Linked DNA regions of Homo sapiens. The protein of the gene in region 2 purifies or fractionates together with the protein of the main gene of each other region. This does not show direct contact. Each region holds a gene or a part of one and is shown on either strand. Other genes may lie near its edges.

What was found.
Region 1: the proteins of RHOBTB3 (region 2) and EGLN1 purify together in Homo sapiens (affinity purification with western blotting; one study listed by BioGRID). This does not show direct contact.
Region 3: the proteins of RHOBTB3 (region 2) and HTR7 purify together in Homo sapiens (affinity purification with western blotting; one study listed by BioGRID). This does not show direct contact.

The regions. Positions count from the first base shown.
Region 1 is NC_000001.11:231,370,214-231,373,868, forward strand, and holds part of EGLN1 (egl nine homolog 1), read right to left. Parts: intron 486-3,655; coding exon 349-485; intron 1-348. UniProt on the Homo sapiens protein: Cellular oxygen sensor that catalyzes, under normoxic conditions, the post-translational formation of 4-hydroxyproline in hypoxia-inducible factor (HIF) alpha proteins.
Region 2 is NC_000005.10:95,786,782-95,790,436, reverse strand, and holds part of RHOBTB3 (rho-related BTB domain-containing protein 3), read right to left. Parts: intron 1,676-3,655; coding exon 1,579-1,675; intron 1-1,578. UniProt on the Homo sapiens protein: Rab9-regulated ATPase required for endosome to Golgi transport. Involved in transport vesicle docking at the Golgi complex, possibly by participating in release M6PRBP1/TIP47 from vesicles to permit their efficient docking and fusion at the Golgi.
Region 3 is NC_000010.11:90,746,519-90,750,173, forward strand, and holds part of HTR7 (5-hydroxytryptamine receptor 7), read right to left. Parts: intron 3,077-3,655; coding exon 2,321-3,076; coding exon of another isoform or gene 2,317-2,320; exon of another isoform or gene 2,316-2,316; intron 1-2,315. UniProt on the Homo sapiens protein: G-protein coupled receptor for 5-hydroxytryptamine (serotonin), a biogenic hormone that functions as a neurotransmitter, a hormone and a mitogen.

The DNA.
Region 1 (3,655 bases), on a different chromosome or scaffold from region 2:
TCTCTCTCCCAAGTAAAATACTCTTACAAAAATCAAAGCATGGATAGTAGTTAAGAGATGCACAAAGCACGGAGAGAGTGCTAGAAAGATGGGAAGGCCTGTGCTTCCCTTTCTTCAGAGTGGCTGTGCAAAGAAAGACACATTTAGTACTAACTGTTAATGAGTCTTATATAATTATTTGAATTCAGATGACTGTGCAACATAAATCTTATACAATTATTCAAATTAAAATGACTGTGAAAAGTACCTGGCAGGAAAATACTCATTAGAAAGCTTTCACGTTTACTCTACAGATTCCCTCCTGTCCTACCATACTCTAAACCAATTTTTTCTGAAAAGGAATACTACCTTGTAGCATATGCTGGTTGTACTTCATGAGGGTTGCGACGGTCAGACCAGAAAAACAGCAGTCTATCAAATTTGGGTTCAATGTCAGCAAACTGGGCTTTGCCTTCTGGAAAAATTCGAAGTATACCTCCACTTACCTAGGAAAAGAGCCAAATATGTAAGCAGGAGTAACCAAAAATGCTACAAGATTAAATTTAGGGGGAAAAAAAGAGACAATTTCAATGTCTTAATTGGATTATTCACAAATACGTCTCAATAAAGTATGAAGATGAGCTGCAATTTTAAAAGTATATGCACTGATGCAAGGACAAATTTAGTTCTTATTTTAGGGATATTTATTTATTTATTGAGATGGAGTCTCGCTGTCACCCAGGCTGGAGTGCAGTGGCACAATCTCAGCTCACTGCAACCTCCGCCTCCTAGGTTCAAGCAATTCTCCTGTCTCAGCATCGCGAGTAGCTGGGATTACAGGCATGCGCCACCATGTCCAGCTAATTTTTGCATTTTTAGTAGAGATGGGTTTTCACCATGTTGGCCAGGCTGGACTCGAACTCCTGACCTCAGGTGATCTGCCCACCTCGGCCTCCCAAAGTGCTGGTATTACAGGTGTGAGCCACTGTCCCCAGCCATTTTAGGGATTTTTATAAATATCTGATGAAACACAAGAATGTTATCTGAATTTAAAAGTCTTAAAATGATGCTTGAAAGCTTTTAAAACTACTAAACGTTTATTTTTGTATGTTAATGATTTGCTTAACCCACCCTTCAAATAGATAGATTTCAAGAAATTTTGACAAAATTATTATTAGAAATAAATTATGTCAAATAGTTTACCATACTTTAAAATTCAATAAACAATAGGATAGTCACAAATACCTCTTACTTAAATAATTCAGTATATCAGTAGAAAGTGTCATCATTTATTATGACCATCATTATTGTCGTCGTCACCATCACCATCAGCATATAGTTCATTAGAACCTGTGGCTCTCCCTTTCCAGACTGGGCCTGATGCACAGATGACTACCTGCTTGTGAAACTTGATTCTACCCATAAAGGATTATTATTTACCTAAACACCAACTAGGCATCAAATCGCACTGGGAACTGTGGTGGGCTCTGGGTGCAGAGTAGGGAATAATGCAGACAGACTTTGTCCTTGCGGGGTTTACGATCTGGGGATAGGCAAAACCCAACCAACCAAGTAGCTCCTTACTCTTGAATAACTACACTCCTAAGCAGGTAGACTCTTAAAATTTAAAGAAACTCTAACACCTGGTCAGGACAACATGGCGTTTGAGCCTAAACCTAGAATCTATAGTTAAAGAAAAGGTTTATCAGGCTCACTGTCAGGTAAGTTAAATTCTAGCTACTTTGATACCCTTGCCAACCTTCCTCAGGTTCCAGTGTTGTTCAGAGTGATTCCCCAGGCTACTATGCAAACATCTAAAGAACCTCCAAACTGAGAACATGTCTTCTTTCCTTTTTTCCTGCTCCCTTCCCTTTGACTCAAGTCATTGGGAGTACCACAGGTGACCTGCTGAAAATGTTTTAAGTGAAATGGCTACTTGACACTTCCACTCTTCCTCCTCTGAATTAGGTGGCCCTCCTGTGTGCTCCATAGCAATCTGTCTTGACACTTTGCATAACTATCTGTAACTGTCAATCTTTCTGATCTGTATCCTCCAATAGATCCTAAGCTCTGCCAGGGCTAATTCCGTTTCTGCTACATCCCTAGCATCCAGAACAACTGACACACTACATATTCAGTGCAATCTAGCATGGAAAATTTCTATTCTACACACAAAAACACTAGGGACGTTTCTCTGCCTATGTCCTAATTTAAAACCTACACATTAATGACCCTGACTAAGTATTATAGAAATTATAAGATCAGCCTAGAAAAAGCCTAACAAAATCTAGAAGTTAGAAGCTGATGAAACACAGTTCTAGCTTTCTAGCTATTCACAAAATCTGAAAAAAAGTCAATTTTTAAATTTTAACTAAAGTTACACCCATCTGTTTTGTGCCTTGGGCTCAAATTCAATTACAAAATTTATTTCTCTACTTCAAACTTTGAAAGCTGTAACAGAAAAACCATGCTTGTTGACATGCCTCAATATATACTCAGCAGAAAGGTCAGCTCCATTTTGAACCTGGACTAGGGCAGAGAAAACTCTTTAAATCAGTGTGTTTTAGAAAGATTAGTGAAGCACTGTGAGCATATTCTAAACTTAAAACACTTTTTAGGGCAGGATTAGGTTTTTGCACATTTAAGACTCAGGCAGTTTCCATTTGTGTGTTTTGGGGGATGCAGAGAAAGAGGTTTTTTAAAGGTTATTTGACTTAAAAACAACAAAAAAAGGCACCCTGGCTACACAGGTATGTTCACTTTGTGAAAATCCACTGAACTATACAAGCCACTTTTCTATTTGAATGTTATACTTAAGATTTTAAAAAATCAACCAAAAAATTAGTCTGTACAGTCTCTAGTGTAGTAATATATGACATATTTTTTAAAAATCATTTAAATTTAATGAGACTCAGGCTAATATTAAGGAAATATATATTTAAAACAAGAGAGATTAAATATATTGTACATTCTAATTGGTTTTACAGGGCTTGTCAGTACTGATAAACTTCCAGTTTTTTAATAATCAGGGAAAGACTGAATCCTGCCTCCAATATTCAATTAAACAACTCAATGCCATATAATATTTTTACAAAAATGCCAAGAATAACATAGCAAATAATCCTTAACAATTATCCATAGATAATCTCCCCCAAAAGCCATTATAAAACAACTGTTCTCAGAAATGTTTTTCTAAAAACTATTAAAAGGAAAATATTTTAATAAAGGTCACCTTTCTAAAAAAGTTAGATTTTAGATAAGTGCTCTAACATCTGAAAATAAATGAATCCACTTTTTAAGATATATCAGTACTTTTTTATATGGTTTTGAGGTATAACTGATATACAAAAATGCATATCTTTAACATTTACAATTTGATGAGTTTGGATATATACGCACACCCTCATGACACACCACAACCAAGGTAATAAACATATCCATCACCTCTCAAAGTTCCGTTTCCCTTCCCCTAACCTCGTGTGTGCGTGTGTGTGTGTGTGTGTGTGTGTGTATGTGTGTGTGTTTAGAACACTGAACATGGAGTCTACCCTCTTAAATTTTTAAGTGCACAACACTACGTTGTTAACTACAGGTATCATGTTGTATAACATAGAGTAGTATTTGTTTCATTTTACAAAAATCCACTCCTAATACCTGAGACTGAAACAAATTTAAG
Region 2 (3,655 bases):
TATACAAGATAGTAAGTAGAAAATAATCTTATTCTTCTCTTACAAATAAGAGTGACCTCAGGTAACATAATGAAACTGGCTCCAGGACCAAAGTGCAATTCATTTAACTTTTAGCAAGCTTCTTAAATAACTATAGAAGCAGCTACTTAAATAACTATAGAAGAATGTTCCTTCTGACAGCAAGCATACACAAGCCTTATCTTTATGAACTGACTGTTTTTTCCTTGCACAAAGTACATAGCTAATAAATAACTGTTGTTTTGTTTTGATGTGATTATGCTTCTCTACTGTACTAATAGTTGACTTATATAAGGAGGCTCCTAATAGACATATAATGTTTGTTGACTGGCTGAATACATCTCCCAAAAACGGATTGTGTGTTCCTGGGTTTTCTTTAACTGCACAAGTAGCTGAATAAAAACAAGAGATTTTTACTCTTTTTTCTTTTAGAGACAGAAGTCTCGTTATGTTGCTCAGGCTGGACTCAAACTCCTGGGTTCAAGTGATCCTTCAGCCTCAGCCTCCCAAGTTGGCTGGGATTACACCGAGGTGGAATCACCATCTTGACCATATGATTTTTATATCTTTTACCAGCAGAGTCTTTTTTACGAAGTAAAATTTTAGGTAGAACTCAAGATATGAAACAGATAAAGTGGAACTACTATGACTGAAGGAGGGAGGGAAGAGTCCAAGAACTGTAAATTTTAGCCTTCTCTTTCCCTTTCCCTTACTCCCTCTCTCTCTCCTTCTCCTCACCCACTCCCTACTTTCTGTCCCCCACCCTAGAAGACACTTCAGTTATCTCCACGGAGATTTATTTGTCCAGATTGTGAAACTCCTTGATCAGGTAATCTTTCACTTCCTTTTCTTTTTAGCTCAAATTTTCCTTGAGTCTATGCTAGATAATAACATGAGCAAACCACTGCATCTAAACTGTCTATTCTGACAACTATTATATTTTCATTTTTTTCTTTTTATGCAGTACTCAGTAGTTCACACTTTGGTTTTAATTTTTATAATTTACCTTAGAAAGCATATTACATACACTCCCAGTAAGTTTCACAACATTTTTTATATATGAAAAACTGTTATTCCAAAGTAATATAAGGGACTCCCATATAGGTATACTCAGTAAATACAGATATCCAGTACAATAAAGCTAAATATAATATAGTTAACAAGAGTTAAATTCCTTTATAAAAAATTTTTAAATCTGTACTGTTTAAACTTTGCTGCTGACTTAGGTAGTTAGAACTAAGATATCACTTTTCACAACCAAATGTCACCTGAGGACACATTTTGTCACCTTATCTATTTCAGGGAAAGAAAATGCATTTAAAAACGGATGGAGCTATAAAATAATCATTAGAAAACTTCTTGTGTAACACAGGTTAAGGCACTTATGTAACACAGGTGACTATAAATTGTTTCCTCAATTACCACACTGCATAATTTACAAGAAATTTATTACATTGACTATTCTTATTTTGCTAAAAGTACTACTTCTACAACTTATGTCTCAAATCTAAGAACAAAGAACATAAAGTTTTCTTTTCAAAACAGAAATTAGCAATCTACCTGAAAGATCCTGAAATTCAGGCTTTTGACTGAAGATGAGGTAGTTAGTAGCAATGAAATGAAGTAGCCAGGTTGAAAGGCAATCAGAGTGGTGAAACTGCAAGAAAAATGAAAAGTGAAATAATATTGCACATAATGGCCACTGGTATGATAAGATCAAGAGAACGGCCTGGGAGCAATCACGGAGAGCCCATATTCATGTTTAATGTGCCTTTACCTGATGCAGCTTTCAGTATACTGTGACAGCAGACAGGATGAGGGAGCACTATTAGCAAATAACGTTAAAAGTACATTCTCGGAAGAAGCCAGGCCAACAGCGAATAACAATCTACGGCTGCCGGAGTGGCCAAACGTCTTTAAGCAATGCATGGCTGCATCTGAGGTTCTTGAAGATTTAATTTGAGCTTTTAATCTGAAGCCACGGACTTCAATAACTGCACCTGTATCTGTGTAGTAGATGATGGTGAGCAATGTTAAAACAAGTTCACCTGAGGAGCAAGCCAAAAAATATTTTGAGGAGGAAACACCATCGGCCGAAGGCATGGGTTTCAATGTGTAAATGTTTCTAAGAGAAAGCTGTGGCTAAATATTTGCTTTTAATGAGATGTACAGTAAACTGAGCAGGATTTCCAGCTCCATTCTCCTCATTCTGAGTTCCAATAGCTGCTAATGGAGGGAAAACTCCAAGCAAGCAGGCCACTGACATCATCACCTTGGTGCCCATCCAGTGACACTCACTGATCCATCCAACCACCAATGCAGATGACAGTAACTTGCTGGCAGGCAACTTTGGCACATGAGTATAGAACTCTTTTTTTTATTATTATTATTGTGGTACAATATGTGTAACATAAAATTTACCATTTTAACAATCCTTAAGTGTACAGTTAAATGTCACTAATAAGTGCATACACATGGTGGGGCAACCCAACACCACTATCCATTTCCAGGCCTTTTCTATCACCCCAAACTGAAACTCTGTACCATTAAACAATCTGTTTTCTCCCTATCCCTATCAGATCCTAGCACCCACTGTTTTACTTTCTGTCTCTATGAATTTCACTATTCTAGGTACCTCATATAAGTGAAATTCTAAAATATTTGTCCTTTTATGTTTGGCTCATTTAGGGTAATATTTTCCAAGTTTCATCCATGTTGTAGCAGATATCAAAATTTCACTCCTTCTTAAGGCTGAATAATATCCCATTGTACATATATACCACATTTTGTTTATCTCTTCACCTGTCAATGGACATTTGTGTTGTTTCCACCTTTTGGCTAAGTATAGCTCTTCTAAGGAGATGCAAAAATATTAAATAAGCAACAAGTAATGCTAAATTGAAGAAAGATTAGTAATCTCTAAACCTTAATAAAAAAACTCAAGGATATGCTTTTTTTTTTTTTTAAAGCTGTATAGTGTGAGAGTATTTAAACACAAATTCACAGGTCCCTCTTATATTCATTATATAAAATCAATTTTTGAACTGGAAATAAATTTATAGTTTATCTAATCCCACATAACATTTTAACAGTTTTTTTCCTCCCCTTATCTTTTAGCAGATGAATGTGTGCAATCTCAAGGGAAAAGAATAAGAACCTTCAGCTTTTTAGAGAAGCCACCACTACTGTTACGTGATTAACCCAGAGCAGATAACAAAACACCAGGAGGTTAGGACATTGCCTTAAGGGCTGTGACTGAGAAGGAAAAGGGAGGTCACAGAAATAAACAGCTGGCTACAAAGCATGCTTAAAAATGAAGAATTTTATTTTTGACCAAGATTTAAGATATTATCCAAAATATCTTAAATACAGTAGGATGACACATCTGAATAAGCTTTCCGCTTCCAGGAATGAAAGAACTGAGGAATGAGGAATTGGTAGCACATGTGGGGGTTTGGGAAGTAGATTTCAACAGAGCAGTTCTAGCTAATGTACAGACCTGGCCCAGATTCATAGTCTAGGGACTCTGTAACAGGAATGGAACATGTCTCACTGTAAAAACTAGGTTTTAGAAGGATATGTGTTGACGTAAGAAAATGGGTTCAAACTGAAATAAGCAACAGAATTTTTAAAAAGG
Region 3 (3,655 bases), on a different chromosome or scaffold from region 2:
AGAGACCTTCCCATGTTACTCCTGAGAACTAAAACCAACACGCTTTCCTTTTCCTGTGCTAAAAAATGCTGCAGCCAGGCAAAATAACCTAGCTATTTGTTCTAGGAAATAGTCACTTTCAGAAGACTATATGCCAACAAAAATAGCCTACTTATCAAGACTAGTTTGCTCATTAACACTCACTTCACAGCCCTCATCTAGCTGTACTTACCAGTCTAAAGCTATTATGTCATAAACTCTGCCTAATCCTCACCAGTTCCCTACCTTCAAATCACCCAGCCCAAGCCCCAAAACCCTATCAATATCCTTGCCTTATTTCCTTCATCTGAGAAACTACTAAGACTGTCTAGGAGTGGATACCACTCGTAGTGCAGTAAGTCTAATAAACTTTACTTACTTAGAGTAACAATTCATTCTCATTGTCTTCTTAGAGAGCTTATGGCTAGTCTCCAGCTCAAAAATATTCTGAGACTCTTCACTGCCTATATACTGAAGTCACTTGACAAGTATAACTGCATAACATTCAATACAAGCATCGGGGTGATTCATATCACAGCTACCACTTAGGGACTGTGTGAACATAGGTCAGTTACTTTTGTTCCTGAGCCTTAAGTTGTTCTTCTGAAAAGTGGGGATGCTAGAAGCACCTATTTTGCAGGTAGCATGCTGCATAGCATGTAGCGGGTGTTCAATAATGGTTAGCAGTTATTACTTTTATTTATCATCTATTATGTGTCAAGCACTGTACTAGATTCTGCAGAAAGAAATCTGATTAAGACATTGTTCCTTCTCTGAAGGAATTCAAAATCCTAATGGTCAGTTCAACGAACTCTTATAGGCATAGTAAGATCTCTGGGTTTGCTTACAGTACATGTTCTAGAACTTAAAATTACATTTTTTAATGCTACTTTTTATATTGTGAACAATCTCGTGTACAAAAGAGTATATAGAAGTAAACATGAATGCCTGTGAAGCTACACTCAGCTTAAGAATTAGCATAGCTGTAGTCTTCCAACTTTCAGTTGTAAGATAAAGGCAGTCCAGTATAAGAAAAATGAGTAGCACTGGGATTCAGATGATGTGGAATCTAGACTTAGTTGTGACACTAGCTAAGTGTGAGACATCTCACTTTTCAACTCCCAGTTAGCTCTTCTGTTGAAAGACAGGGGTGGACAAGATGACCAGGAAGGTCCCTCTCTGCTAGAGTGGTCCCTGGTTCTCTAGTCTACTCCTCCCTGCCAGGCTCAGTGAAGAACGACACCTCCAACACTAATCTGCTCATTCTCTCACCAGAACCTTCCAATTTTTCATTCCAAGTTTATTTTTCCCCTGACTTTCAAACGTGAAGAAATCTCCTCTACCTCACATTTAAAACAAAGTCTTCATCAGACATGTTGACACCTCTAACTAGTATACTATCTCTTTCCTTCTTTACAATGCCAAATTTTTAACATGTGGGTCACTTCTGAAATTTCCATTTCTCTATCACCATCAGATCCTTTTTCAGATCCCAAGAACCTATTGTAATTGCTTCCTTGAAAGTCACTAAGACTTCTTAGACCAATTCTTGGTTCTCACCTGCCAAGATGGGCAGGAACATTTCCTAAAAGCTCCTGTGGCTCTTTTTCTTTTATTTTTTAGAGGCGAGTCTTGCTCTGTCAACCAGGTTGGAGTGGCATGATCATAGCTCACTGCATAATCCAACCCCTGGGCTCAAGCTATCCTCCTGCCTCAGCCTCCCAAGTGGCTAGGATTACAGAGGCGCTCCACCATGTCCGGCTCTTGTAGCTTTTAAGACCTTGCCTCATCCTGGCATCTCCCCACACTAACAACTCTTCTTTTTCCTGGGCTGCCTCCTTTCAGCCCAGGTGAATGTAACTGCATACTAAAAAGATCATTGTGCCTCCTACCTCAAAAGAAGAATTTATCTGTGAAGGATGAGGTTATCAAAAAAGCTTTACTGGACAGAAGAATAATAACAACTAAAATAATAATGTTACACAAATTCAGATGTAAGGATATCATTTGGATGTCATTTATGGAGAAAGAAGGGAAAATATCACCTGCCTTGTTGTCAATCACATCAATTGCAATTCATCAGCAAATTAGTCTCATCTACCAATCCAACTAAGTACCTATTTTTGGCTTTTGGAATTTTACTGGGTGGAAGACTGGAGTCTATACTGTTGTCAATTCAAATCTGGTATGTTTAGTAAAAACTAAGCTAGCTACTCGTTCAGGAAGCTTTCTGTGATGTGCCTCAAAAAGCTGCATAAAAGGGTTTGGGGGATAAAAGGAAAATAGTGATAAATGACCTTACAGCACAAACTCAGGTCTCTCTGGCCTCTCAGCAAGCTTCAGGGCTTCATGCATGCCTGCAGCTGAGAGCTTCCGGTTGATATTCCGGTACTGGCACTGGAGCAGGCTGCGATAGGTGGTCCTCAGGTCCCGGTTGAAGAAGGCATATATAAAAGGGTTAATGAGAGAGTTTGCATAGCCTAGCCACAGAAATGTCCTCTCCACCCACAGTGGGATGCAGCTGCAGGAAGTGCCACAGATGAAGGGTCTGGCTGTCGAGAGGAGGAAAAATGGCAGCCAGCACACGGTAAAGGCCCCGACGATGATCCCCAGGGTGGTGGCTGCTTTCTGTTCTCGCTTAAAGATGGAGATGTTTTTCCTTTCATGCTTGAGGAGTCTCGAAAGGTTTGCACACTCTTCCACCTCCTTCTGGAGCTTCACTATGCCATTCAGGGCGATGACGCTGTCTGGCTCCACTCGAGGGAAGCCAGGAAACTTGTGTTTGGCAGCACTCTTCCTGGCAGCCTTGTAAATCTGGTAGTACATGAAAAGCATGACGGACATGGGGATATAAAATGCCACTGCGGTAGAGTAAATCGTATAGCCAAAGTCCTGGCTGATCAAGCACACCTTATCATCATTTACATTCTGAGCCCATCCAAAGAGTGGAGGTAAGGTGATGGAGGCGGAGAGAAGCCAGACGGAGAGAATCATCTTCGCCATGCATTTCCCATTCTGCCTCACAGGGTATGTGAGGGGCCTTGTGATCCCAAGGTACCTAGTGGAGAGATGGAAAGATAACAGATGAACACCGTGATCATAACTGGTCAACCAAGCAAGTCCTGCCAGCCAGGTACCAGCGCCAGTCCTCGCAACAGCCCTTCTAGGTAGGCATCATTACTCCCATTTTGCAGAAAGGTAAACTAAGGCTCTGAGATGTTACCTATTTTATTCCGGGTCACACAGAGGCATTGCCAGATTGTAGCCTGAGAGCCCTCTGACTCTAAAGTCAGTCCATGCTTTGTGCATGCCTTATAGTTTTTCACAATCCACGAAGTCAACAAAGTTTAAAAAGCTCTCCGTCCCCATGACCACAGCCACCAAAATCAACCAGGACAACATATCAACTCTGATGTAGGATGTTGTGACACATTCTCAAAACTTAACCAAGGTCTACCACACTCTGGTATTATACACCCAGTGATCACCCCAGCTGTCTTAATTTAGGCCAGCTTTTAATTCATTTTAGCTTTCCCTTTGCATTACAGCAAAAGCATTTCTTTAAGATCACACAGATTCGTGAGATAATTTGGGAATCCTAGAGTGTTGAAATGGTTAGCAAAAAATGATCATTATT